Homo sapiens: one gene and its partners. The protein of the gene in region 1 interacts with the protein of each later gene in a biochemical or structural test. Each region holds a gene or a part of one and is shown in the gene's direction. Other genes may lie near its edges. The genes, in order: SREBF1, FBXW7, CREBBP and EP300.

Region 1 (7,023 bases):
AGAAACTGGGGCTCCACTCGGCTGCTTGAGATGCCCTGTTACTAGCAGTCCTGGTGTGCTTGTTGCCGGGGTAGGCGCAACCTCGCACTGGAGGCCTGGCTTGAAGCCAGTGCATTTGCATCAGAGCCCAGGCAGGGACTGTCCATAGGAAGCCACATGGGGCAATGACTCATCCAAGGCCAGTCGGTGATAGAGACCTGAAGAGCAGGTTGAAAGTGGGAGAGGGAGGTCTGTGTCTGCAGCCCCATGCTTTATTTCTGCAGGAAGCCCTCCCGGGAACACCCAGCAGCCGCTGCCTGGCCTGCCACTGGCTTCCCCGCCAGGGGTCCCGCCCGTCTCCTTGCACACCCAGGTCCAGAGTGTGGTCCCCCAGCAGCTACTGACAGTCACAGCTGCCCCCACGGCAGCCCCTGTAACGACCACTGTGACCTCGCAGATCCAGCAGGTCCCGGTGAGGGGGTCTGGCCAGGGGTTGGGGAGGGGGCAGCCCCAGCCCAGACACACAGCTTACAGCCAAGCCTCTCCCACCCTCAGGTCCTGCTGCAGCCCCACTTCATCAAGGCAGACTCGCTGCTTCTGACAGCCATGAAGACAGACGGAGCCACTGTGAAGGCGGCAGGTCTCAGTCCCCTGGTCTCTGGCACCACTGTGCAGACAGGGCCTTTGCCGGTGGGTGACGTGGGCAGGGCATAAGGGAGTGGGGTCTACACACACACACACATGCCCACCTGGTAACATGTGCCTGGCCCTGCAGACCCTGGTGAGTGGCGGAACCATCTTGGCAACAGTCCCACTGGTCGTAGATGCGGAGAAGCTGCCTATCAACCGGCTCGCAGCTGGCAGCAAGGCCCCGGCCTCTGCCCAGAGCCGTGGAGAGAAGCGCACAGCCCACAACGCCATTGAGAAGCGCTACCGCTCCTCCATCAATGACAAAATCATTGAGCTCAAGGATCTGGTGGTGGGCACTGAGGCAAAGGTGTGGAGAGGCCTGCAGGGGCACAGACCGGGGTGTCCCTAGGAAGGAACAGATCAGGGGCAACTGGAAGGAAGAGAGGGAGTGAGACTGAGCCTGGACAAGCAGGGAATTGGAATTCAGCCTCCCCAGGCCTGGCCAGCCTCGTTTATTTAGTTAAACTGGTTTGCAGGCCTCTTCAATAAAGGTGGGGCTGTGCTAGGCATTGGGGATGCAGCAATGAACAAGACAGACAAAAATTGTCCCTCAAAGAAGAGCCGACCTTCTGGTGGGGGAGATGGACAGTAGGCAGGATGAATAAGTGCTCGAGACCACCACGTTTGGCTCGTTGCAGAGAAAGCAGGAAGAGGATGGTGAGGGTCCCCTGGTGGTAGCCAGGGAAGGCCTCCCTGAGATGGCGGCAGGCACAGCAGCAGCTAGCCAGACCCTGCTGTCTGCATCTTACATTCTAACCCTATGCCCGGCCTGGGAGGTGGGTGCTACTAGGCGAGGAACGGTTCAGGTAGAAGGAACAAGTGCAAAGGTCCTGAGGCAGTAATGTTGCAAAGCAGCTCCGCACCCCCTTGCTAGGGCTCTCCAACCCCACAACCCCCGACCTGACAGGCCACCTGTGCGCTCCCCCTCCCTCCCACACCGTGCAGCTGAATAAATCTGCTGTCTTGCGCAAGGCCATCGACTACATTCGCTTTCTGCAACACAGCAACCAGAAACTCAAGCAGGAGAACCTAAGTCTGCGCACTGCTGTCCACAAAAGCAGTGAGTCCTGGCTTTATTGAGCTCCAGTCTGGCCTCTTCTCTAGCCTTGCTCCACCTCCCGGCCCCACCCCATCCCTAGCCCCACCCCACCCTTGGTTCTGGCCCACCCTCTGCCCTGCCCACCTCACCCTTGGCTGTAGCCCTGCATTCAGCTCTAGTCCCTTGGTTACCTCTGGTCCTGAAAGAGACCTGGTGCCTCCCTTTGGCCCTAACCCAGCCCCATCAAAGCGTCCTGGGCTAGCTTTAGGAGCTACAGTAGTCCCTAGGCCTCCAAGGGCCTAGGCTCTGATTTGGGGTCACATATCCAGCCTTTACTCCTGGCTCTGTTCCTTTCGGCCCACAGAATCTCTGAAGGATCTGGTGTCGGCCTGTGGCAGTGGAGGGAACACAGACGTGCTCATGGAGGGCGTGAAGACTGAGGTGGAGGACACACTGACCCCACCCCCCTCGGATGCTGGCTCACCTTTCCAGAGCAGCCCCTTGTCCCTTGGCAGCAGGGGCAGTGGCAGCGGTGGCAGTGGCAGTGACTCGGAGCCTGACAGCCCAGTCTTTGAGGACAGCAAGGTTGGGCCCTGCCACGGTGCCCCCTTCCCCACTCCCAGCCATATCCTCTGAGCCTCATGACAGGGCCGGGAAGACCCTAACAGATCCTACCTCCCATTTCATAGACAGAATAACTGAGGCCTGGAGCCACGTGGGGTCCCACAGTAAGGTGGGCAGAATCCTGACCCCCCCCTTCCCAGCCCCATGCTCTCTGGGGTCCCTCCGATTCTGCCCTCACCACCCTGCCCAACCCCACCAGGCAAAGCCAGAGCAGCGGCCGTCTCTGCACAGCCGGGGCATGCTGGACCGCTCCCGCCTGGCCCTGTGCACGCTCGTCTTCCTCTGCCTGTCCTGCAACCCCTTGGCCTCCTTGCTGGGGGCCCGGGGGCTTCCCAGCCCCTCAGATACCACCAGCGTCTACCATAGCCCTGGGCGCAACGTGCTGGGCACCGAGAGCAGAGGTGGGACCGGCCAGCCTGGGCATCTTTGGGAGGGACACTCGGGGTGAGCCCCCAGGCTTGTGAACTTGGGGCTCTGGATTTCCTGGGAGCTGTGTCCCCAGCTTTCCCTCTGTCCATAGATGGCCCTGGCTGGGCCCAGTGGCTGCTGCCCCCAGTGGTCTGGCTGCTCAATGGGCTGTTGGTGCTCGTCTCCTTGGTGCTTCTCTTTGTCTACGGTGAGCCAGTCACACGGCCCCACTCAGGCCCCGCCGTGTACTTCTGGAGGCATCGCAAGCAGGCTGACCTGGACCTGGCCCGGGTAAGGGGCTGGCCCCGGCAGAGTGGGCAGGGCAGGGACCCCAGGCTGTGAAGGTGCTGGGTGTCAACCCTTGTTCCTGCTCCCTGTGCACACCATGAATCTGTCCCGTCCTCCCTGTGCCTAGCCACGCATCCGCAGACCCCCACCACCCCTCCAGAGCCTGCTGTGGACGGCTCTTCTGAGCTTTGGGGCAGCTGCTCTGACCTCACTTTTCTCACCTGGAAAACCCTCATCCACAGGGAGACTTTGCCCAGGCTGCCCAGCAGCTGTGGCTGGCCCTGCGGGCACTGGGCCGGCCCCTGCCCACCTCCCACCTGGACCTGGCTTGTAGCCTCCTCTGGAACCTCATCCGTCACCTGCTGCAGCGTCTCTGGGTGGGCCGCTGGCTGGCAGGCCGGGCAGGGGGCCTGCAGCAGGACTGTGCTCTGCGAGTGGATGCTAGCGCCAGCGCCCGAGACGCAGCCCTGGTCTACCATAAGCTGCACCAGCTGCACACCATGGGTAGGACTGAGCGTGGGGCGGGCTCCGAGGTGCTCCCTGCTGCCTGTGCTCCACCCACAGCCTCATGCCTGCTTGCCTTCCAGGGAAGCACACAGGCGGGCACCTCACTGCCACCAACCTGGCGCTGAGTGCCCTGAACCTGGCAGAGTGTGCAGGGGATGCCGTGTCTGTGGCGACGCTGGCCGAGATCTATGTGGCGGCTGCATTGAGAGTGAAGACCAGTCTCCCACGGGCCTTGCATTTTCTGACAGTGAGTGGGTTGGGGGGCTGGGGGCTTATCCCTGCAGCTCTCTCCAGAGGCTCCCTGGGTAAGAGCTACACGGGATGTGGCAGTGGTTACCAGGGGGACTCCAGGCCAAGCTGGGACTCGGCCCGGGGTCTGGCCCCAGGCTGTGTCCACTGTGACAGCCCAGTACCCTCCCCTACAGCGCTTCTTCCTGAGCAGTGCCCGCCAGGCCTGCCTGGCACAGAGTGGCTCAGTGCCTCCTGCCATGCAGTGGCTCTGCCACCCCGTGGGCCACCGTTTCTTCGTGGATGGGGACTGGTCCGTGCTCAGTACCCCATGGGAGAGCCTGTACAGCTTGGCCGGGAACCCAGGTGCTCTCTTACCCCTTCCCTGTCCCCTCTCCTGTCCCTCATCCTCATTCCTGTCCTGTCCCTTGTCGCCTGAATCTCTGGCTGTCTCTGGCCACCCCAGTCCTTCTCCCTGCCATGGGTTGTTGCTGTGGGGGTTGCAGGAAGGGAAAGGCCTGGGTGCCTCTCGTTCCCATTGGGGCTTTCAGAAGCACATGCAGGGATTGATGGGCAGATGGCTAATTGGAGAAGTGACCCCAGGCAGTGCCGCTGTGGAGTAAGGAAGCGGAGCCAACAATGGCATCTTCTCAAGTCGGTTTTCCTTTGGAAGCAGTGTAGGGCAGGCCTCAGTGTTGTCTCCTGGCCAAGGCTGGTGCTGGTGATAGTTATGTCCACCCGCTTTCCCCTGTCCTTGGCAGGGGCTGCACCCAGGGGCATGCCGGCACTTCCCAGTGGCCCTAGGTGTGGCCCCAGCCCACCCAGGAAAAAGCCCTTAGCTTGGAGAGGAGGGTGGGGCCCTGCTCCCCACCCCACTCACCTCCTCCTCTCCACAGTGGACCCCCTGGCCCAGGTGACTCAGCTATTCCGGGAACATCTCTTAGAGCGAGCACTGAACTGTGTGACCCAGCCCAACCCCAGCCCTGGGTCAGCTGATGGGGACAAGTAAGTGTCGTTGTGCCCTCCTCCAGGCAAGGCCCCTCCGGCGGGATTCTGAGAATAGCTCTGGCCTCAACCCTGTGGAGAGAGCCCAGAGCTGGGCTACCGTGCGTGCCATGCACGCTTCATTCCTCTCTGAGTTTCCTCTCCCCACCAGCCTGTGGGAGGAGACAGTGGCACTTTGCAGAGCCAGGGGCCAGGCTGTACTCTGGAGGGCAGGTGGGGAGCACCCTCCTAGGACCCCTGCCATCTGTTCCGACAGCCAGCTCTCTCCTTCCACAGGGAATTCTCGGATGCCCTCGGGTACCTGCAGCTGCTGAACAGCTGTTCTGATGCTGCGGGGGCTCCTGCCTACAGCTTCTCCATCAGTTCCAGCATGGCCACCACCACCGGTGAGTCCCCGGCCCCTGTCCTGGCTCCCTTCTCAGCTCCCCCGTGCAGCGTGACTGAGGGTTCAGGGGACCCTCCCTCTTCTGCAGGCGTAGACCCGGTGGCCAAGTGGTGGGCCTCTCTGACAGCTGTGGTGATCCACTGGCTGCGGCGGGATGAGGAGGCGGCTGAGCGGCTGTGCCCGCTGGTGGAGCACCTGCCCCGGGTGCTGCAGGAGTCTGAGTGAGTGCACGGCAGGTTCCTCCTGCCTGGTCCCGGGCTCAGCCTTCCTCATCCCCTGGGCACTGTGCCTCACTCAGCCTTTGTTCTGTGCAGGAGGAGTCACCACCTTTTTTCCTCAGGGAACTCGAGCCAGGGAAGTGGGGGGCACTCAGCCAGGGCTTGTGGACTGGTCTGACTGGCACTCTTCTGCCCTGGTCCCAACAGGAGACCCCTGCCCAGGGCAGCTCTGCACTCCTTCAAGGCTGCCCGGGCCCTGCTGGGCTGTGCCAAGGCAGAGTCTGGTCCAGCCAGCCTGACCATCTGTGAGAAGGCCAGTGGGTACCTGCAGGACAGCCTGGCTACCACACCAGCCAGCAGCTCCATTGACAAGGTGAGGGGTGGGGTCAGGGGCCTGGCAGGGCTGGGGGATTCAGCTTTCCATTCCCTGGTTCCTCTCCCCAGCCCCCAGGGGCTGCAGAAGACCATGGGGTTAGCCCAAGCAGCACAGGATAGGGGGTCCAGCAGACCCTGCTTTTTGGCTAAGGCTTCTGTCCAGAGGAGAGGGGTTGCCCCTATCTGGCCTCAGTTTCCCCATCCCTGGGAGGAGGGGGGTGGATGGTGTGGTAGGATCCCTTTGGAGGCCCTGCATCAGGAGGGCTGGACAGCTGCTCCCGGGCCGGTGGCGGGTGTGGGGGCCGAGAGAGGCGGGCGGCCCCGCGGTGCATTGCTGTTGCATTGCACGTGTGTGAGGCGGGTGCAGTGCCTCGGCAGTGCAGCCCGGAGCCGGCCCCTGGCACCACGGGCCCCCATCCTGCCCCTCCCAGAGCTGGAGCCCTGGTGACCCCTGCCCTGCCTGCCACCCCCAGGCCGTGCAGCTGTTCCTGTGTGACCTGCTTCTTGTGGTGCGCACCAGCCTGTGGCGGCAGCAGCAGCCCCCGGCCCCGGCCCCAGCAGCCCAGGGCACCAGCAGCAGGCCCCAGGCTTCCGCCCTTGAGCTGCGTGGCTTCCAACGGGACCTGAGCAGCCTGAGGCGGCTGGCACAGAGCTTCCGGCCCGCCATGCGGAGGGTGAGTGCCCGATGGCCCTGTCCTCAAGACGGGGAGTCAGGCAGTGGTGGAGATGGAGAGCCCTGAGCCTCCACTCTCCTGGCCCCCAGGTGTTCCTACATGAGGCCACGGCCCGGCTGATGGCGGGGGCCAGCCCCACACGGACACACCAGCTCCTCGACCGCAGTCTGAGGCGGCGGGCAGGCCCCGGTGGCAAAGGAGGTGAGGGGGCAGCTGCTGACCAGGGATGTGCTGTCTGCTCAGCAGGGAAGGGCGCACATGGGATGTGATACCAAGGGAGGCTGTGTGTGTGTCAGACGGGACAGACAGGCCTGGCGCAGTGGCTCACACCTAGCACTTTGGGAGGCTCAGTTGGGAGGACAGCTTGAGCCCAGGAGTTGGAGGCCGCAGTGAGCCTGAGTGACAGGGAGAGTCCCTGTCTCAAAAAAAAAAAAAGACCAAGCATCTTCTTGATGGTTACCTGATGACAATTCCTTTCACAAGGAATCAGTGGGGTGACTGTCATTTGTGGGATACATGACTGCACGTGCGTGACTCAGTCTGTGGACTTTGTGTGTGGGCTGAGACTAGGGTGGGGAGAGGGGAACCCGCCAGGCCCCCGCC
Region 2 (6,911 bases), on another chromosome or scaffold:
TTTTGGGGAGCCCAGACCTGGGAGCTCCCCAAGCCAACACTGTGACTCCCTCTTTGGGTCCCTGCAGTTCCTGGCGTCTCCAAGCTTCCGGGTGCCAATGTGTTCCCTGGTGCCAGCTGTGGAAGCTGCTTGCAGTATGCCTGGTCCAGCCACAGCCTTGCAGAGAGCTGGTGCATCTGGAGCTGCCCGCCCCACTGCAGCAGCTGGTGTGTCTGACTGCGCAGTAGCCAGACCTCACGCTCGCTCACACATGCCTTGCCACTCCACGCCGTACTTGCCCTTGGCAGGTGTGGGATCCAGGCCGGTAGCATAAGCTGAGCACAGCCTGCCAGGCCAAGTAGGTGGAATGAGCCCAGTGGGCCTGAGCAAGACTTGTGCAAAGGCGCCACAGGCTACAGAGGTTTCTGGCCAGAAAAGCGACACCCTAAACATCCCATAACATTACTTTACCTGTTCAAATGTGGACTATGAAAGGATATTGAAAAGTTGGGCATCTCAGAGACTTAGACATTGAAAAGATACTAACGCGCCACAAAAATGTAAATCCAAATAGCTAGTTGTATACAAGAAGGTCCTCAACAGCATCAGTAATCAGAGAAATGACAGTTAAAACCACAATGATATATTACCATACACCCACCAGACTGGCAAAACCAAAAAGACCAATAATGTCAAGTGTTGTGAAGGTGTGGAGCAATGGGACTCATATATACCTAGTGTGACTGTGTAACCCTCTAGAAAAGAACTTGGCATTATTTATTCAAGTTTATGATACATATTACACTCCCAGGTATATGTTATACAGAAACTGACGTAGATGTGATGGAATACATATATGAAGAATGTTCACATTAGCATTTATAACAATCCTAAACTGGAAACAACCCAGATGTCCATCAGCAATAGAATGGCTAAACATATTGTCACATATTGTTATAATGGGACACTGTAATATGCAGCAATGAAAATGCACAAATTACAGCTATAGGAACAACCTGAACAACATATGAATTAAAAACAATGTTGAGCAAAAGCAGCAAGAACAACAGATTACATATTATATTGTTCCAGTTACATAAAGTTCAAAAGAAAGAGTGAGACTAAACAATATATTGTTTAGGGATGCATGCTTGCGACAAAGCGACAAAGAAAAGCAGGGAAATGATTATCACAAATGTTAGAATAATGACTACACTTAGGAGGGAGGGAAAGAGTTGTGTTCGGGAAGGTCATGGCAGGGAGGGGAACTTCTGAGTTGCTGGAAATATTCCATTTCTTGACCTGGTTGATTGGTTACATGGTGGTTTCCTTTATAATCACTTATACTATATAATTGCTTTATGTATTTAAACTATATTTCACAATAAAAATGTTAAAATTAATATAGATAGTATTTCTGGAAAGCAAAATTTTGCCAGATAATTTAGCTTACACAATCTTTGACAGTAAAAGCCACTGATATGGAATAACGAAACACTGATTAGTTTCTTGTAAGAGCTCACTTTCAAGTGTAGAGGTCAAAAACCTTATAAGAGTCTCCGTTTTTCTATATTTTAACACAGTATTTAGATCCTTATCTTAAATTGATGAACCAGGGAAGTAACTATTAGCTAAAACTTCAGATTTTTTGGAATTTTTAATTAACTAGCTGTTTTCTCCTCTGGATTAATAAGCAATACAAGGAACTAAAGAGATGCAGACCAAGTTGGAAATGTATGAACTTCCTTCTCTCCAGTCTCCAGTTCCAGCTGTTTCCTCCTGTTATCAAGCTGGGTGCTGAGGTGGGTATCTAGCCCAGTAAGCTTAGTGTGCTGTTATTAAATACTTTCTAAGTAAGTGGCTCAGGCTCTCCTGAGTGCCCTTCTGTTCCTCAGCACTGAGGTTGTAAGGTGGAGCCACTGACAATGAAAACAGAAGATCACGCTGCTGAAAAACCCTATGTGGTACACACTTAACTGGAGGTGTTCTCTGCTGGGCTGCAGAACTCTGATGTTTGCACTCTTTTCCTTCAAAGCCTACAAAGGTTAAACTCTCTGAGGTGTTTAGCTTCACAAAATCCCCTAAATCTGTGTGTTTTACTCCTTTAATTTCCACCATTCCCCTGTTGTAAGATAGGAAGAGGGGGAAAAACAAAAAATATTTATTTTGTAGCCATGTGAGACCATCACTTGTTGGTCTGATTACCTGTGAGTCTTATTTGGAAGGCTGTAGCAGGGGATTGGTCACGTAAAGACAGAAAAATCCAGGGTAATTTAAGCAGGATATTTAACCTGGCTCTTGGAACTTCAGGTCAAGGGCAGTAGGGTCAGGTGCTAGTCTGTGAGTCTCTCCTTGGTTTTGCCACATCCTCCTTTGCCCCTCTCACCACCTTTCCCGCAGCATTTTAATGAACACGAGCCCTTGGATTTACCCAGTTAAAAGTTTCCTTAGTTTACTGTTTGCAGATGGTAGTGGCAGTAGTGGGAGAAACCCAGAGCTTCCCACATTTGTCTATAATACACTTGCTCCTACCTTACCCCCTCCTCCAGGTGGAAAGACTTGTAAAATCCATTACTACTGCTTCCCAAGGAGGTAGAGTGTACTAGGGTCCAGGGACAGAATTGTGGAATCTGCTTTCATCATTGCTGCTGCTTTAATCTTTTTCTCATACTATTCACTGAAGACAGATTTCTGAGGATTCTGGTCCTTTTATCTTAAATTTGTTTTCCTAGAGAACTACACTTTAAACTTCATGAGTTTCTACTTAACTTTCCTTTCCAGGATAACATCTGTAGGAAAAGCTGCATAATAGTAATAACACTTATTTTAGAAAGAAAATAACCTTTGAGTCAGACCTGAAACAGGCCAACATTTCTTGATGACAACGTACACTGATGAACCAAGACCAGAAGCTCTCGAAAGCTCCAAACCGTAAGAAAGAACCATTCGTAAAAGTGAGGGACTATTAAATTCTTCCCCTGACAGTCAAAAATCCTTCAGCAATCTCCCAGAGGATGGCTCCCTTCCAATCCTCCCTTCCCGCCGCCCTAACAATCTGCGCGAGGATGGGTCCCTTCCCTTGCTCGGCATTTCGTCTCCTTTTCCACTAAAGACTCAGGTTGTGACTCTGTACTCAAGCCGCACCCCTGTTTCCTTTCATGGCTAGGGGGAGGGGAGGAATGTATTACAACTCATTTTTACAATGCACTGCAGTTTACAAAGCGCTTGCACTTCCACCATATCCTCTGAGCTTCACGAGTGCCACGTGAGAGAGGCATTCATTCATTCATTCATTCATCAAACATTTGCTCGGCCCGACCACACGTTATCCAACGCTGGGTCTCACCCCACGCCACGGGAAGGGTGGGGCGCTCTCTCCCTGGAGCAGGTGCAGATCAGGCTGTAGGGTAACTCCTCGATCAGTCCGGCTTTTCGAGGGTCTGTTTGGGGCCAAATGCCTCACCTTCGGGTGGTGCGCGCAGCTGCCTGAAGACGCGGCCTGGGCCTCCTCCTTCCTCCCAAAGGAGCAGTCCCCACCTGCCCCGAAGGAAACCGCTACAGACCAAGCTCTCCAGGCCGCCCTCGGGTCAGGGGTAAGATCGGGCGGCAGCTTAGGCTCGACTCGGCTCCTCCCCTTCCTCTCTTCAGTTCTGACGCGGCCGTAGAGGCGGCAGCGGCGGTGGCGGCTGCGAGTCCCGCGGCCCGAGGCGCACCCACCCGCTCGCCGATCCCCACTTCCTCTTCCCTTGGAGCGTCATCAGAGCGCGCCAGAGGCGCCCAGGGCGGGGTGGCTGGAAGGGGGAAAAAGGCCAGCGGAGGAAGCCTCAGAGCGGAAAGAAGAGGGAGGGGGAAGAGAGCGGTTGCTAGGTGACTTGCGTCATCGGCAGGCGCCGCTCTCCTCCCGCCCCTCTCTCTGGAGTGAGGCGAGAGCCCCGCACAGAGCGAGGGAGACAGCGAGCTGAGCTCCGGGCGCTGCCGCTGCCGCTGCCGCCGCCGCCGCCGCTGAGACTGAGAGCGAAGGAGCATCCGAGAGATCCAGTCCCCCTGCACTGGCCGCCGCCGAGACCTTCGCTCTCACCTGGGCCAGCGGGAGCCGCGGCCGCACTCCTTTCCCCCCCTCACCTTCCCGGCCGGCAGCGGCGGCTGCACACGCCGGAGCCGGAGCCAGAGCCGGAGCCCGAGCCTGAGCCGGAGCCGGCGGCTTGGGGGGCAGGGAGGCGGCTACCACGGGCCGGGAGTGGGTAGCTGCTCCGCGGTGAGAGAACGCTGAGGAGGCGCCAGAGCTTCTGCCTCGTCCCGTGGGGCGTGGGGCGAGACCCCCAAGGTGTAGGGAGGGGGGTCCCAGCCGCAGCGACACATGCGGGAGCCGGGAGCGGGGGCGGCGCCGAGCGGAGCCGGCCGGGTCCCTCGCCTTGCCGCCGACTCGGCCACCCGCCCGGGGCCGTAGCATCTTGCCCCGGAGTGTATGAACCGGGGCCCCAACCAAGCTCGGCAACCACCCCCCGGCCGGGGGGGCGGGGACCCCGATGTGAAGCGGCGGCTGGGGCGGCGGAGAGAACAGGACCGACGCCGCCGTCCTTTCCTCACCTTCCCCCTCCCCTCAGCCCCCTCCGGGGGTCTTCTCCCTTGGCCAGTCGCCGGCCCCCCGGCTCCTTGGCTGGACTCCGGGAGGAGTTCCTAGAGCCCCCCTCCCCCGCCCCAGTCCCGAGGGCGGCGGGGCCGGGGGGGACCCGGGGGGCCGGCCGCAGCCTCCACCCAGAGGAAACTTTACAAAAACAAAATCCGGAGTCTCCCAAACCTGACTGTCCCGGGAGAAGTGGCCCTGGACGGGCAGAAGCCGCAGCCTGAAAAGACCCAGGAAGAGGAAAAGAGGAGGTAAGCGGGGCCGCCGCCTCCCCTCCCCTGGCAGCGCGGAAGAGACCCGGGTTGCCGCCTGGTTTAGCGACACGAGCACCGCTTCTTCCTCAGTACCGCGCCGGAGCCTTCCGCAGCTGCCGCTTCAGTCCGAAGGAGGAAGGGAACCAACCCACTTTCTCGGCGCCGCGGCTCTTTTCTAAAAGTGTGAGTGGCCCCGGGAGAGGGAATTGAGGGGGAGAAAGTGGGAGGATGCCGGCGCTTCCTCCTGGAGTTTTGCTGATGTTCTCCAGTAGTGTTGGGAGTCTATCAATGAGGGAGTCTAGCTTTATTCACGGAGGGGGGAAGGTGTTAGGGAGGCCTGTATTTTGTAACTTTTTAGCTCTTTGTACGAGTAATGCAAGTATGCAGGTTTCTGTCGGAGGAGTCTTTTCTCCAAAGTGAATACTCGCACCTTTCTGGCCAGCAGTTGGCAAAGGGAAATTGAGGAAGCCAGAGCATATGTGCGCACAGAGGCCATCTGTATCTGTAACCTTTTCCTGGTACTGTGGGTGTGTGCGGTGTACTTTTTGTTTCGGGGGTACTCTCATATAGGTTCCCGAATGAGAACTACTTAACCTGTGGACCCCTGAAAGTAAAATTCCTTTTTTAAAAAACAACAACAAACCTGTTTTGAGAGAGGTTCATTTCAGTACCTATTGGTACAGGAGTTAACCTTCTCAGTTACTGGGTCCAATTTCATGTGTGTCAGGAGGACACTGTAACAGATGTCAGTTACTCAGGAACTTGAGTTGTTAGGAATCACAACTTACTTGGGGAAGAGCATTTATCACATTAATCATTTTATAAAAGTTGTGATTTTTTCCCTTTCACCCCCCCCTTTTTTTTTTTAGAGTAACAAATTACAGCACTTTTTTATTTGGTTTGAGGCTTTGCTTTTTTGAATTATCTTTATTTCTGTATCAATTTAGGATACATCTTTGATATTTAAGTCAGGAATGATTTTTTCCTTCCATTATTTTAAAGCTGAAGTTTATAAAACCTTTGACTTGTATTTTAGGTATCTTGTCAGAGTACCAAATTAAAGGTTTATGAAAGTAATTAATATTTCATATACAGACCTTAAGGGTTAAACATAGAGCAGAATTTTATGTAAGAAGACATAGACAGTAGTATACTGAGAATTGTGGTCCGTCTAGACAACTGTGGGCTCGTTCTGTCTGAAGCCACTGCTGAGAGATACTTTGTGGGAATGAATGTAAGCCTGGGGTTATCTCTCTTTTCGAAGTTCTCCATTCAGGATCTTGATTAGATTAATTTAAAACTTTCTCAAACTTAACAATGTTTGGTCCTTTTTTTTAAAGTAATGAGTTCTGCAAGTTTATTAGCCTGTGTATTATGTGACAGTTCATTTACATATTCCATACCTGTGTCCCTAAACTTTCAGGACACAGTCAGAGTTTGTGTTTCAAGAATTATCAGGACAAGCCTCAGTTCATCTTTTCTTAATTTTATGGACTTTCATTATTTCTACCATCAGTTTCTCCAACTGTTGTCTTAGAATAATGTCTTTCATTTGACCACTTTTCCCTCCTCTGGAACTTCTCCCACTGAATTGTTTTTCTTTAGTTGCCTTGTTATGCTTTGGTAAGGAACTTTAAATTCTGTCCTTTAAATGTGTACTGACATGAAAATACTGAATAGTGGATGTAATGTTAGAATCAGAGTCACGTATTCTGTTTTTCACTAAGATATTGCAAAGAGAAATGTAGTCATTTTCTAAAATACTGTACCCAAAATACAGTAGAAGCTGTATTTTGGGAAGGAGGGGAGGACAAACTAAGAAACAAACTATAGTTTGAATGTAGGTTGCACTCTGTCAAAGTTGCTTACTAACTTTAGGACCTACTTTTATTGCTTATGGATTGGTTAAAAATTACGGTATTTTTTTTTTTTTTGAGACAGAGTCTTGCTCTGTCACCCAGGCTGGAGTGCAATGGAGCGATCTTGGCTCACTGCAACCTCCGCCTCCCAGGTTCAAGCGATTCTCATGCCTCAGCCTCCCAAATAGCTGGGAC
Region 3 (7,372 bases), on another chromosome or scaffold:
ATCCTGCCTCAGCCTCCCGAGTAGCTGGGATTACAGGCATGCACCTCCAAGGCCGGCTAATTTTGTATTTTTAGTAGAGATGGAGTTTCTCCATGTTGGTCAGGCAGGTCTCGAACTCCCAACCTCAGGTGATCTGCCCGCCTTGGCCTCCTAAAGTGCTGGGATTACAGGTGTGAGCCACCACACCTGGCCGAGGTATTTGTTTTCAAAACAGCTAAGAAAAAGCAGTAGGTTTGGGACTTGAACCTAGCTCTGTCTGGATCCCTCCACACCACCAGACCACATTCTGCCTTCTGTCCACCAGGAACTGGCTGGAATCCTGCCTTCCTGGGACTACTCCCCCAGGCCTCTGCCCCCCAACCCCGGGACTCCCACCCCTGGGGGATCAGTTATTATGATTTTGTGCTATTCTGACTTGGATTCTCTGCTTATCTTTTCAATGTGTGTCCTGTTTGTGTTTTTCTCCCCAATGCTGTTCTGCATCGCTTGAAGGCAAAGTCCAAACCTGATGCTATCTTTTAATCTATTTAAGCCTAGAAAGGGACAATCAATATCAAATTGCAACAATTCCATTTCTTTTTTTTTTTTTTTTTTTTTTTGTGAGACGAAGTTTCATTCTTGTTGCCCAGGCTGGAGTGCGATCTTGGCTCACTGCAACCTCCGCCTCCCGGGTTCAAGCAATTCTGCCTCAGCCTCCCAAGTAGCTGGGATTACAGGTGCCCCCCCACCATGCCCAGCCATTTATTTGTACTTTTAGTAGAGATAGGGTTTCACCTTATTGGCCAGGCTGGTCTCGAACTCCTGACCTCAAGTGATCCACTCACCTTAGCCTCCCAAAGTGCTAGGATTACAGGCGTGAGCCGCCGCATCCAGCCAACAATTCCAATTCCATTTCTTTCTCTTTCTTTTCTTTTCTTTTCTTTTTTTTTAGACAGTATCTCACTGTTGCCCAGACTGGAGTGCAGTGGTTTGATCATAGCTCACTGCAGCCTCAACCTCCTGAGCTCCAGTGATCCTATTGCCTTGGTCTCCCAGGCAGCTGGGACTACAGGTGCATGCCACCACGCCCAGTTCACTTTTTAACATTTTGTTGTAGAGATGAGGGTCTCACTGTTGCCCAGGCTGGTCTCAAACTCCTGGGCTCTAGAGATCCTTCCACCTCGGCCTCCTAAAGTGCCGGGATTACAGGCATGAGCCATCATGCCCAGTCCTTTGATTGTTTTTTAATGTGGTATCTGAGACTGGAGAGGGTGAGGTTTGTGGAAAGAGCAGGAAGCCTTAGGTGTGCACCGGAGTGAAGCCCCTTCGTGGCTGGGTGGCTTGTCCTCCTTTGTGCCTTATTTCTTCATCTGTGAAATGAGGACAATTTTTCCTTCCAGGATTGTAGGAAGTGCTATCCATGGGAGGCATGGCAGAGCGGCCTGGTATCCCTAAGGCACTCACTTGTTGAAGGTGATCCCCAGCTAAGTGAGTGCAGGCAGGAGCCACGCTTCCCTCCTTGCTATTCCCCCATCAGTGTCTGAGCTCAGGGTTCTTTGAGTCAGACTGAAGGGAGAAGAAATCGAAAGGAAAGAAAAAACAGGTATCAGTGAATACCAGAATTGATCAAAATGATACAGGTGAGAACAATGAGACAGAAAAAGGGACTGCAGAGCCGGTATATTTTGAGGGTGGAACATGGTGAGACAGGAAGACTAGGGTCTTTGGAGAGTGAGGACATGGGTTCCAGGCCCAGACTTGCCATGTCCGGGTTATTTACTTCTGAGTCCTTGCGACTGAGTTCCCTTGCTTTCCTCTGTAAAATGGAAACCTGTCAGGGAATGGCTCAAGCTCCTGTGCCCACTTCTGTGTAAACCACTCACCAATGGACCCCTGGGGGGCTGCATGGTGTCTCCACTGCCCCAAGGCAGGCCCTAAGACCTCTAGGTGGCTGGACACCTTGTCCCGTTTGAAGAGTGGCCTGGAGCCACCTCAGGCTGGGGCCCACCCTTTTCAGTGGCCTGAAGGCCTCTAGGACTCAGAGCACCTGACACAGCTCATCACTCATTCAGTTTTACAAACCTACTTCTTCTTGCAGAGCACTGTTTCTGTGACTAAGACACCATCTTTGCCCCGAAGGAGCTCACAGACCCTTGGTGAGACGGACACCCAGAGCATTCAGATACAGGGTGTGGCCTGCCCTGTGCCACTGATACACTTCTTGCCATTCCTGTGCAAACTGACTTCTTGAATACTTCCATTTATGGCTTCCAGGGTGTGCTATTTTAACTCCTTGAATATATGGGGATCTCTTTATGTTTGGCCAAGGGGATTAGCACAGTCTCAATGCCCTTGGGATTCTCAAGAGCTATTTGATGCATAAGTAAAAACATGAACTAATTCGGGGGCAGTGGAGGCGGGGAAGATGGGGCAGGATGTGTTATGTGTTCTCTCACAGAGCCCAGAAGTGATATGGGAGCCGAGGAGTGGGCTAGGAGGGCTTCCTGGAGTAGGTGACATTTGAACTGGGTTCTGGAGGATGAGTTAGAATTTGCCAGGCATGTCTTCTCAGCACAGGGACCAGCATTTGAAAAAAAAAAAAAAAAAGCCTGAATGATGTGAACTGCCTACTGGCCAAGTGGGTGTAGGATGATGATGGTGAAGTGAGCCATGTAAAGTAGAAGAGACAGATTCAAGAGCGGTATCACGGCCCAAGATTTTGAGCAGTACAGGTAAACAGAGAAAAGCAGAACGATCACTCAATCTTGACACTCAAGGACAGTCACCATATGTACATACACCTATGTTTTTAAGAGAATTCATACGTGTTCTTTTTTAAAGAAAGACTATGTAGTGTTTTCTTTTTCTATGTCTGGGATTTTGTTTTGTTTTGTTTTGTTTTTGAGACGGAGTTTCACTCTTGTCGCCCAGGATGGAGTGCAATGGCGAGATCCCGGCTTACTGGCCTCCCCAGTTCAAGTGATTCTCGCATCTCAGCCTCCCGAGTAGCTGGGATTACAGGCGCACGCCGCCACGCCCAGCTAATGTTTGTATTTTTGGTAGAGATGGGGTTTCACCATGTTGGCCAGGCTGGTCTTGAACTCCTGACCTCAGGTGATCTGCCACCGCGCCTGGCCAGGGAGTTGTTTTAAACAGATTTTCTCCCTCTCTTTTCGGGATGTTAACTCTGGTGCTGCGTGGGGAGCAACGTGGAGAGCAAAGAACACTTAAGTGAGTAGCTGCCACCATAGCCACCGGGACAGTGCGGGAGGAGCAGTCTCCCAGGTAAAGACCGTGGGTAGAGGGGCGCGTGGCGGGTGAGAGGGAGGAGTCCGCGCTGACTCACGGGTTTCTGGCTTAGGAAACAGTGGAGCTGCTGATACCTTTATGAGGAAGCCGGGCAAGTTTGGAGGGGCAGATAACTAACTGGGATGGGAACACCTCGGGTATTCGTAGAAGTGTCCCGCGGGCTGTGGTCTCGCGTGGGGGACTCCCCAGGCCCGCACCCCTGTCTGGGGCACCTGCGAGGCGCCAGGCAAGTTGCCTGGGGCGGGGAGTGCGGCCTGAGCGTCCAGGCTTAAGCCCCGATGCGCGGGCCCTTCTCCGCCCAGGCCGGCCCTCGCCACCCCGCTCTCACAGGTGAGGGTGTCTGCCCTGCCGCCTTGGGATGCGAACAGGCGTGAGGCCCCCTCACTCCCTAGTGTCACGAGGTAGGGCGGGACCCGAATCCCGGCCCTGCCACTTCCTGCCTCGACCACTTTGGAGCAGTTGCTCGCCCCCCGCCTCAGTTTCCCCATCCGCCCACCTCGTCGGCAGGACCCAAGGGCGGTCTGTAACCTGCAGAGGCCATTCCACTTCCCTGGCCGGCGGCGAAGGCTAGTGGCGCGGCCTGGGCTGGGGTCGCCCCGACCGTTCCCGACCGACGCCACCTAGGAGGGTCTGGGGAAGGGGACGCGAGGAGCTGGGAACACGCAGCGCCGCCCCAGCGGGACGGGCGGGCCCGGGCTGGCGTCGAATCCGCGCCCGAGAGCCCAGCCCGCGGCCAGGCCGCCGCTCCCGGAGCCCGCTGGGGCCCGGAGCCCCGGCCCTCTACGCCTGGTCGCCATCAGAACAAAAGCTGTGGCTCAGCCCGGAGCCCAGGCGCCCCGCAGGCCTGGCCCGCGCCGGGCCGCCAGCTTCCCTACGCTTGGCGGCCGCGCCTTCAGCCCTTCGGCCCGAGCACGCTCGGCTCTTTCCGCCACGGCCGGCGCAGGTGGAGGGGGCGGGGCGGGGGCCGTGCGTGGTGACGCCGCGGGGGGGTGACGCACCGGCGTGCCCCGCCCCCACCCCCTCCCCGTTCAGGCTCTGGAAAGAGAAGAAAAAAAACTTTCTTTTTTTTTTAATTGAGGAATCAACAGCCGCCATCTTGTCGCGGACCCGACCGGGGCTTCGAGCGCGATCTACTCGGCCCCGCCGGTCCCGGGCCCCACAACCGCCCGCGCACCCCGCTCCGCCCGGCCGGCCCGCTCCGCCCGGCCCTCGGCGCCCGCCCCGGCGGCCCCGCTCGCCTCTCGGCTCGGCCTCCCGGAGCCCGGCGGCGGCGGCGGCGGCAGCGGCGGCGGCGGCGGCGGAACGGGGGGTGGGGGGGCCGCGGCGGCGGCGGCGACCCCGCTCGGCGCATTGTTTTTCCTCACGGCGGCGGCGGCGGCGGGCCGCGGGCCGGGAGCGGAGCCCGGAGCCCCCTCGTCGTCGGGCCGCGAGCGAATTCATTAAGTGGGGCGCGGGGGGGGAGCGAGGCGGCGGCGGCGGCGGCACCATGTTCTCGGGGACTGCCTGAGCCGCCCGGCCGGGCGCCGTCGCTGCCAGCCGGGCCCGGGGGGGCGGCCGGGCCGCCGGGGCGCCCCCACCGCGGAGTGTCGCGCTCGGGAGGCGGGCAGGGGATGAGGGGGCCGCGGCCGGCGGCGGCGGCGGCGGCCGGGGGCGGGCGGTGAGCGCTGCGGGGCGCTGTTGCTGTGGCTGAGATTTGGCCGCCGCCTCCCCCACCCGGCCTGCGCCCTCCCTCTCCCTCGGCGCCCGCCCGCCCGCTCGCGGCCCGCGCTCGCTCCTCTCCCTCGCAGCCGGCAGGGCCCCCGACCCCCGTCCGGGCCCTCGCCGGCCCGGCCGCCCGTGCCCGGGGCTGTTTTCGCGAGCAGGTGAAAATGGCTGAGAACTTGCTGGACGGACCGCCCAACCCCAAAAGAGCCAAACTCAGCTCGCCCGGTTTCTCGGCGAATGACAGCACAGGTGAGGAGGGGGTCCGGGGCGGCGGGGGCCCGGGGCGCGCTGTCACCCCCACCTGAAAGAGAGCGTCCGGGGGTCGTGGTCGCGGATACCGATCGAGCCGGGAGCTCGGAGCAGGCCCCGCAGCCCGTTCCCCTCGCCCCGCGCGGGAGGGTGGAAGTTCGTCGCAGGACTGTCACTGGGCCCGAGTTGGTCAGCACACGCCCGGTGCACTCGGCCTCCCCGCACCCGATCAGCCCTCCTCGCGGGGACCCTAGTGGCACTCCAGGAGGGAAGAAGTAAAGTGCAGCGTGTGGGTTTGTTTGGTAATGTCCTACGCATCCATCCGCGGCCGTGTCCACACGCGTGGCCGTCCAGAGGAATGACAGCGGAGGGTACCTTTGATGCTTAGAGAAAGCAAGATCGCGGCCAAAGGTAGGGCAGTGTGTTTTCTGGATTGGCGACACATTGACCAGGCTGCATTCAGAGGACACTCACAGCAGCCGCCAGCTTGCGAGTTAGAACCGAAGTTTCTTGGAATGAGTGAGTTCCTTGGAAAGATGCTTAGTGCTTATTTTCAAAACTCCTTGTTTTGTGTGTGTGTGTGTGTGTGTGTGTGTGCGCGCGTGTGTGTTTTTAGTCAACTAGTCATTCCATTTTTCAAAACCCAAACTTCGTTAGCAAGATGTCATGAAAGTTGCTGTGGTGTGTTTCATTTCCATGTATAACTTCAAAAGAAAGTTAAACAGCAGGTTTAAGTTCATTTGGGCTGCAATCTCCATTTGAGTTTGTGTTGCTTTCACAGTGTAGATGTACAAAGAATTAAGGAATGTAGGAATTCCAATTTTTCAAAAAAATGGAGCAGGATACTGAATAAATCATCTTTTTGTTTGTTTCCTTTCATTAAACGGCTTCCCTGGAAACTTTCTTAAGTTATCATAGCTGCTTAAGAGAAGTATTTAGTTTTCTATTAATTCAGTAATTCTGGGTCCCACTGCGCTGGTTCATGGTAACATGAACTAGTTGTATTTCCTCTTTTAGAGCTCTCTCCTTTGCCGCAAAAACTTGTGTGCCGCTGCGAACAATTCCATCTCCAGCGCAGCTTGCATTTCTCCAGTAGTCTTGCAGTGGTAGCATCTGAAAATCAGTTTCTAATGAATGAGTCCAAATTGAATTACATCGCTGCCTTCAGATTTGCACTAGACACAGCTGTTCAACTTGTGGAAATAGTTCTGTGACCGACCACTAGCATATTAAAAAAAACTGCTATTGCTGTTGAAACAAAACCTGAATTTTGTGGCTTAAGTTTGAATACAATTCCTGGAATCAAGTTATGATAAGCGACGTTTAATATTAATGTAGAAGTGAAAAGCGATTTTTAAAGATCAATCATAAGGAGATTCTTATCTAGTTAAAATTTGTTAAACAGTGGGGAGGAGTAAATGATGCTCATGGTATATAAAAATCACTAATGCTTTTCTTTTTAGCTGATAAAAGTTGAGTTTGACGTTAATCTTATAAAATGAACTTATTGAAGTGAGAAATTTGGAAACAGTAGTTTAAATGCCGTTGTACTGCAAAACAGATCTCCGTTGCTTCATTAATCTTGCTGTGTTTGAGTAGTCTTCAGTTCTGTGAGACGTAGGTCATACGTGGCGAGTTCAGCTTTGAAGCTTGTCTTCTGAAACTGGTAACCTGGATGGCTTTGTAGCTTTGCTGTTGTTGAATGAATTTGTTGTAGATTTTGTCTTAAAAAGGGGGACAATTAGTAACACAAGACTTAACAAAAAGGCATGTCCTTATATGTACATCCAGCTGTTTCCAAGATGGAGCCCAAAGGTTAGCTTTTTCCATAGTAGTGTCCATTATTGGATGATCAGATGCTTAATAAGTTGATCAGAAAGGATTTTCCACACTTAACCACCTTTTCCCCCTTCCTTTACAATTTTGATCCTTGTAAGGCACAGGGGCTCTTTCGTGGGACCAAAAGTCAGCTTTAAATGGCTCCGATTTAATCCAAAGTAGAAAGTCAACATCATACTTAAGTTGGGTCATGTGTTACACATTCATCACCATCACACTATTGTGAAAGGGTCTGTTAGTATGGGGGACCAAGGAAGGGCTCATTATCAAGCACATTAAACAAGGGGCTGCT
Region 4 (7,023 bases), on another chromosome or scaffold:
CTGAGCTCAAGATATCCACCCACCTCGGCCTCCCAAAATGCTGAAATTACAGGTGTGACCCACTGCGCCCAGCCTTTAAATATTTATCTTAAAAAATAGTATCAAGATGTTCCTTTAAATAATTCATCAAGTTTCCTTAAAATGACAAGAGCTGCCTCATGGAGCAATAATAGATACATTCGTATCTGCATCATATGGGGCAAATGTGGGCAGTAGGATTGCGGTTTTATTTTTAAACCATTTTCATTTGATTAGTCTCAAATACTTAAAAATCAGAAGATTTTGCATTTAAAAAGTCTGAATTTCTGGCTGCTTTAAAAAAAAAAGGACATGTCTGGCAGACTTGACCCCCTTTCTCCTACAGTGACACCTGTCTATAGCTGCACTCATGGCTGACTCTAGAAGAGCTGTGTTTTCTCTCCACTTCAGTCCTCACCATTCTCTATTGTTTTGGGTACTTAAAACAGTTTTACTTGGTATTAGCTGCTTGGCACTTGCCATTTAGCTTGGAACACCTATCCATATTGTTGACTTGAAAAAAAAGTTACTCATATCTTAGGTGAAAACATTGTTTTGTAGATAGTGTGCGTGAATACAGATATGTGTGGGGAGGAAGAGGAAAGGTTTATCTCAAGGTCATTTGTTGGATCCTGATTCATTTTTCTATTGATTTTTAATTTTTATGTAATGAGCATGGATTATGCATATACTTCTTATAAAGCTTGCAGAGTTACAGATAAAAGTTTATATGAATAAATGTTGAGCATTTCCTCTCTCAGTTTTGCTCATTTACTAAAGGTTGAAATTTGTCTGAAGGGATGGACATCTCCTTAGAAGAGCAGCAGGTCTTCCTCTCCTATGCCTGAGGCTTGAATGTACAGCCCTTGATGGAGGGTATGGCCAGGGTGGAGCCAGGTCACTACAGACATCTGTCCTTTCCGAGGGTGCTGTAAAAATATTTTCTCTGTGCACTATGTTGAAAGTACTACACTAGAGCATGTGCAGATAATCCAGGAAAAAGACCTTAGAATTTATGTATTTATATTTTAGGTTTTTTTTGAGACGGAGTCTCGCTCTGTCGCCCAGGCTGGAGTGCAGTGGCACGATCTCAGCTTACTGCAAGCTCCACCTCCCGGGGTCATGCCCCGGGTTCACGCCATTCTCCTGCCTCAGCCTCCCGAGTAGCTGGGACTACAGGCGCCTGCCACCACGCCCGGCTATTTTTTTGTATTTTTAGTAGAGACGGGTTTCACCGTGCTATCTAGGATGGTCTCGATCTCCTGACCTCGTGATCCGCCCGCCTCGGCCTCCCAAAGTGCTGGGATTACAGGATATTTTATTTTTTTAAGAATTATTTCTGTTTTTGTATTTAAGAGGTACATGATATGTAGTGTGGTATAATATGCATATTATTTAAAATCAATGTTCACAGTTTATGTGCATAAAAACGTTGTGCTACATGATCAAATTCGGCCACCATTAGACATGATTCATAGCTATTATCCATGGAGATACTCTGTTGCATGCCAACCAGACTCAGACTTTGTTAAACAATAACATATTAAATGCTATGATGGCCTCAATTTTTTTTTTTTTTTTTGAGACAGAGTCTTGCTCCATCGCCCAGGCTGGAGTGCAGTCGTGTGATCTTGGCTCACTGCAACCTCCGCCTTCCAGGTTCATGCGATTCTCCTGCCTCAGCCTCCTGAGTAGCTGGGATTACAGGTGCCTGCCACCACGCCTGGCTAATTTTTTTGTATTTTTAGTAGAGACAGGGTTTCGCCATGTTGGCTAGGCTGGTTTTGAACTCCTGACCTCAAGTGATCCACCCACCTCAGCCTCCCAAAGTGCCAGGATTACAGGCGTGAGCCACTGTGCCTGGCCTATAATGGCTTCAATAGCTTATTTTTCTATCAACATTGAAAGCACCCGGGCTCATAAAGGAATACCAACAAATCCACTTGGAGGCATTTTTCTGTATTCCAGAAATAACATTTTCTTCAAGCTTCTGTCTAGTTCAGAGCTTTATTTTGTGATTCATACTCAATTTTCAAAGGTATTATTAAAAATATTTTGTGGGGTTTGTGTGTGCAGTGAGTTTTTGTTTGGTTAAGGGAAGATGGTGCAAAGATACTTATTTCTCTTTTTTACTCTAGATGGCCCTCTACCTGACCCAAGTATGATCCGTGGCAGTGTGCCAAACCAGATGATGCCTCGAATAACTCCACAATCTGGTAAATAGTGAAAAAAATTTTTTTATTTTAAAAGAATCCCCGGTGTACTGCAAGATAATACTTGCTACCTGAACACCCGCTTTATGCCAACAGCAAGTGTCATGATTACCTGCCCATAGAGGAAGAGGGGGTGAAGAGCAGGTTGGCTGGCAGATCACAGGGCAGGTGACATTAAATGATCAAGTATCCATTAAAAAACAACTGCAGGCTGGGCATGGTGGCTCACGCTTGTAATCCCAGCACTTTGGGAGGCCGAGGCTGGTGTACCACCTGAGGTCAAAGTACGAGACCAGCCTGGCCAATGTGGTGAAACCCTGTCTCTACTAAAAATACAAAAAAATTAGCCGGTTGTAGTGGCACGGGCCTGTAATCCCATTTACTCTGGAGGCTGAGGCTGGAGAATCACTTGAACCCAGGAGGCGGAGTTTGCAGTGAGGCGAGATCGCGCCACTGGACCCCAGCCTGAGTGACAGCAAGACTTCGTCTCAAAAAAAAAAAAAAAAGCAGATTGTAAAATTTGTAAAATTCAGTTTGGAGATCCTGTTAGTTGATAATGTCTGTTTACTGCTACTGTGAATGAGACAGATTTATTTATACTTAGAAGGTTGAAAGCCAGTTTATTAGTCCTGATAGAATCAGGGCCAGGTGCGGTGGCTCACGCCTGTAATCCCAGCACTTTGGGAGGCTGAGGCGGGCAGATCACAAGGTCAGGAGATAGAGACCATCCTGGCTAACACAGTGAAACCCCCGTCTCTACTAAAAATACAAAAAATTAGCTGGGTGTGGTGGCGGACGCCTGTAGTCCCAGCTACTCAGGAGGCTGAGGCAGGAGAATGGTGTGAACCCAGGTGGCAGAGCTTGCAGTGAGCGGAGATTGCGCCACTGCACTCCAGCCTGGGCGACAGAGCAAGACTCCGTCTCAAAAAAAAAAAAAGATACAGAATCAGACATAAGAATTCTATCTTTTATTATTCAATTTCACAAAGGCATTCAGATCTAACATTTTGCTCATATTCACAGGTTTGAATCAATTTGGCCAGATGAGCATGGCCCAGCCCCCTATTGTACCCCGGCAAACCCCTCCTCTTCAGCACCATGGACAGTTGGCTCAACCTGGAGCTCTCAACCCGGTTAGTTTGACGTCTTTGGTAATCTCTTTGGCCTTTACCTGGTATTTTGAAAATCCTGTTTGTTCCTACTTTATAAATTCTCACAGTCATTTAAACAGACCATAACTCCTAGTTCTTCTGTAATTCTTCTGTATTTAACTCTACTAGAAAGCTGACCAAAAAACGAAAACAGCCAGTCCCTTGTCCCTGGAGTGTCAGTGTTTAGTGGCCTGCATGCGTTTTCACGGTCACTTCTCTTCCCTGATGTCTGTCTTCCCTCCTCCAGGCAGAGAACTGTCTTGCAAGGTTGATGGTGCGTTTTTGCCTGGTTCTTGAACTCGGAGAAGAGAGACTAGGCTTCTCCTGCTCCTTATGCGAACTCTTAACCAGTCCATCTCTCTACCTTGACCCTAACCCTCCTGCTGCCCTTTAGAGTTAGCTGGTGCCTCTGATTCTTGACCCTTTTGGGGGTTCCTGAGCATTACTACTTCTCACTAATCTGCCATTTTCAACAGGGAGTTCTGTCCTTCATTTTAACCTATAAGACAGATGGTCTTAGCTTATGAAGTTTTTGGCCTTTGGTACTCGAGATTTCTTTCTTTAAGGCCTGAATTTGTGTAGGGTAATTTTGGAAATGACATGTAACAGTGCTAGAGCATTTGTGGACCATGAATGCTACCAGATTCTGCTACAACTTGTAAGATTTTCTTGTTTTTACATATTATGGGTCTTAGAATTTGTGTTATTACATCACTGACATGACCTCATGAAATTGTGATTAACTCTCCTCACTTAACAGAGCATGCAAAGAAAATTACCTGCTATCCTTGTGCTAGGCATATTTGTGTACCAAGAGAATGTGTGTTCCATCCTCTTACTATTTCTTGGAGTAGGCCTAGGTAAACTGTGAGGCTATTTCTCTTTATCTTGGCACAAGAGTCAGTTGTTCTACAACTTTCTTCCTTCTCCTCTTCAGCCCTCTTCACCTATACTCCTGTCTTTGGCTTTTCTCTACTTAATAAGCCTGACGTTAGGAGCATTTGATGATTTTAGTTATAGTAGAATAACTATAATGAAGCAGTTTGGTGATTTGTGTTTTTTTTTTTTTTCAGCCTATGGGCTATGGGCCTCGTATGCAACAGCCTTCCAACCAGGGCCAGTTCCTTCCTCAGACTCAGTTCCCATCACAGGGAATGAATGTAACAAATATCCCTTTGGCTCCGTCCAGCGGTCAAGCTCCAGTGTCTCAAGTATGTCTCATAAGTGGATTTTTCACTTATTTTTGATTCTTGAAACTTCTCTTGATGTAGGTTTTTATAGGAGAGAGTGGCAGCAAATAGTGGGTGAAAACAGATGATTTTTTAAAAAATAACAATTTTGGACTTAGGGTATTCTGAACATGAAGAGATTATTCTGTGACATAGCAATGGTGTTAATTGTTACAAAGTAGGAAATAATTTAAATGGATAGTTTTAATTGTTTTTACTAGTGAACACTTTAAAATAAATCTTAGAATTAAACACAATGTAGAAGGAAATCTGGCTGAAAAGAGCATAGGCAGGCCCTAGAGCACTCTGCACTCAATTCTGCCATTTTTCTGCGGTGGCTGAGGCCATTCTGCTGAATGGTTTGAAGTCTCTTTAGTTAAGTACTATCTTGATGGTGCTGTCCAAAGATACATGCCCAGTAATAGGGTATTTTACACATTTTGAAATAGACACATTGCTACTCTTTGTTTAATCAGTTTGTGTCCTAAATTTATATATCATGCCTATGTAAGTATTTCCTTAATTCTGTTCTGAATTGCTGTCTTGTTATGTTTTTTATTTTAACAGGCACAAATGTCTAGTTCTTCCTGCCCGGTGAACTCTCCTATAATGCCTCCAGGGTCTCAGGGGAGCCACATTCACTGTCCCCAGCTTCCTCAACCAGCTCTTCATCAGAATTCACCCTCGCCTGTACCTAGTCGTACCCCCACCCCTCACCATACTCCCCCAAGCATAGGGGCTCAGCAGCCACCAGCAACAACAATTCCAGCCCCTGTTCCTACACCTCCTGCCATGCCACCTGGGCCACAGTCCCAGGCTCTACATCCCCCTCCAAGGCAGACACCTACACCACCAACAACACAACTTCCCCAACAAGTGCAGCCTTCACTTCCTGCTGCACCTTCTGCTGACCAGCCCCAGCAGCAGCCTCGCTCACAGCAGAGCACAGCAGCGTCTGTTCCTACCCCAACAGCACCGCTGCTTCCTCCGCAGCCTGCAACTCCAGTAAGTAGAGATTTGGATTTAGGCAGAATCATTAGAGCTATACTGTAGTATTATATTACTTCTGGGCCATTTCCATTCTCTTTTGCTTTATCTCTTACTGTTTTCTCCACAAGTAGAATGTAATCTATTTTTCATTAGGGACTTTTGTATCCTGTTTTGCCTTCCTGTGATAGTACCTATCGTAGCAGGAGCATAAAGATTTTATTTAGCTCTGACTTTGACCATTATGTTTCATGTTGTACCCTGAGGTCTGAAGGTACGTAAAGGGGTACGACAAGGGGACACAATCCTTCTCCTTATTTAGTATATTATTTAGTGCAGCACATAAATTTTACATATATTTAAGGAATCTTTTTCAAACAGTTTGAGCCATAAAACCTAGAGATTGAATTTAAAAATTGCAGATTTGGACGGGCGCGGTGGTGTACACTTTTCATCCTAGCACTTTGGGAGGCTGTGGCAGGCAGATCACTTGAGGTCAGGAGTTCAAGACCAGCCTGGCCAACATGGTGAAACCCTGTCTCTACAAAAAAATAACAAAAATTAGCCAGACATGGTAGCGGGTGCCTGTAATCCCAGCTACTCGGGAGACTGAGGCAGGAGAATGGCTTGAACCTGGGAGGTGGAGGTTGCAGTGATCCGAGATTGCGCCACTGCACTCTAGCCTAGGCGACAGAGTGAAACTCCGTCTAAAAAAAAAAAAAAAAATTGCAGATTTATGAGTCCTTGTGGCCCAAACCAAAGTTTAAAAATAAGATGAGAGAATTATAGACCCAGAACAACCTGTAGCTTCCTTGTGAGAGGTTGGTTATGTATATAATAAAAATCCAAATTCTCATCTAATAGTTGAATCCTTATTAATAGAACTTTTTTTAAGGGTTTAGAAGCTTCTACTTTGATACCGATATTAATATATATCGGTATCCAATAGTTCTCAGCCATGTTGATGAACTGAGAAGTTCCATGAGTCACAGCCGTTTTATAAAGTACTGTACTTGACGGATGGCTGGTTCATCGTGGCCTCTGATAGACAAGGAAGGACAGAATGAGAGAGGAACCAGTGGATCTGCTTGATTTTATTCTTTATAAAATCAAGGATACTTCCAGAAAATACTGACTTCTCATTAAGAGATTTCTTATGACAAGCCTTAGGATAAAGATAGGGAATGCCAGTTTATCTCATTAGAATCTAGCGATTCAAAACAGCCACTCTCTGGGACATCATTATATTTATTGTCTCCTTTTCTGTACCTTTGAAACTTTCTCTGGTGAGAAGGTAAAAACAAGCCAGTCTTTCTTATTTTCTTTCACTCATTTCTGTATAAATGTGAGCTCCTCTGAAGCAGACATCTTTGAAATCCCCACACACTGCCAGATAATGATAGTTATCAATGAAATAGTTGCTGG

The links.
Region 2: the proteins of SREBF1 (region 1) and FBXW7 form a complex in vitro, tested with the Homo sapiens proteins (3 studies listed by BioGRID, with this or other methods).
Region 3: the proteins of SREBF1 (region 1) and CREBBP form a complex in vitro, tested with the Homo sapiens proteins (5 studies listed by BioGRID, with this or other methods).
Region 4: the proteins of SREBF1 (region 1) and EP300 form a complex in vitro, tested with the Homo sapiens proteins (3 studies listed by BioGRID, with this or other methods).

Annotation. Positions count from the first base shown.
Region 1 is NC_000017.11:17,812,966-17,819,988, reverse strand, and holds part of SREBF1 (sterol regulatory element-binding protein 1), read left to right. Parts: intron 1-263; coding exon 264-451; intron 452-534; coding exon 535-669; intron 670-754; coding exon 755-976; intron 977-1,614; coding exon 1,615-1,729; intron 1,730-2,072; coding exon 2,073-2,293; intron 2,294-2,397; coding exon of another isoform or gene 2,398-2,441; intron 2,442-2,531; coding exon 2,532-2,733; intron 2,734-2,852; coding exon 2,853-3,031; intron 3,032-3,270; coding exon 3,271-3,532; intron 3,533-3,615; coding exon 3,616-3,782; intron 3,783-3,960; coding exon 3,961-4,129; intron 4,130-4,659; coding exon 4,660-4,768; intron 4,769-5,044; coding exon 5,045-5,154; coding exon of another isoform or gene 5,155-5,241; coding exon 5,242-5,374; intron 5,375-5,578; coding exon 5,579-5,744; intron 5,745-6,057; exon of another isoform or gene 6,058-6,153; intron 6,154-6,219; coding exon 6,220-6,420; intron 6,421-6,443; exon of another isoform or gene 6,444-6,509; coding exon 6,510-6,621; intron 6,622-7,023.
Region 2 is NC_000004.12:152,533,070-152,539,980, reverse strand, and holds the start of FBXW7 (F-box/WD repeat-containing protein 7), read left to right. Parts: upstream 1-3,888; 5' UTR 3,889-4,854; intron 4,855-4,947; 5' UTR 4,948-5,040; intron 5,041-6,911. UniProt on the Homo sapiens protein: Substrate recognition component of a SCF (SKP1-CUL1-F-box protein) E3 ubiquitin-protein ligase complex which mediates the ubiquitination and subsequent proteasomal degradation of target proteins.
Region 3 is NC_000016.10:3,877,701-3,885,072, reverse strand, and holds the start of CREBBP (CREB-binding protein), read left to right. Parts: upstream 1-4,359; 5' UTR 4,360-5,156; coding exon 5,157-5,241; intron 5,242-7,372. UniProt on the Homo sapiens protein: Acetylates histones, giving a specific tag for transcriptional activation. Mediates acetylation of histone H3 at 'Lys-18' and 'Lys-27' (H3K18ac and H3K27ac, respectively).
Region 4 is NC_000022.11:41,144,583-41,151,605, forward strand, and holds part of EP300 (histone acetyltransferase p300), read left to right. Parts: intron 1-2,156; coding exon 2,157-2,234; intron 2,235-3,254; coding exon 3,255-3,364; intron 3,365-4,455; coding exon 4,456-4,593; intron 4,594-5,178; coding exon 5,179-5,616; intron 5,617-7,023. UniProt on the Homo sapiens protein: Functions as a histone acetyltransferase and regulates transcription via chromatin remodeling. Acetylates all four core histones in nucleosomes. Histone acetylation gives an epigenetic tag for transcriptional activation.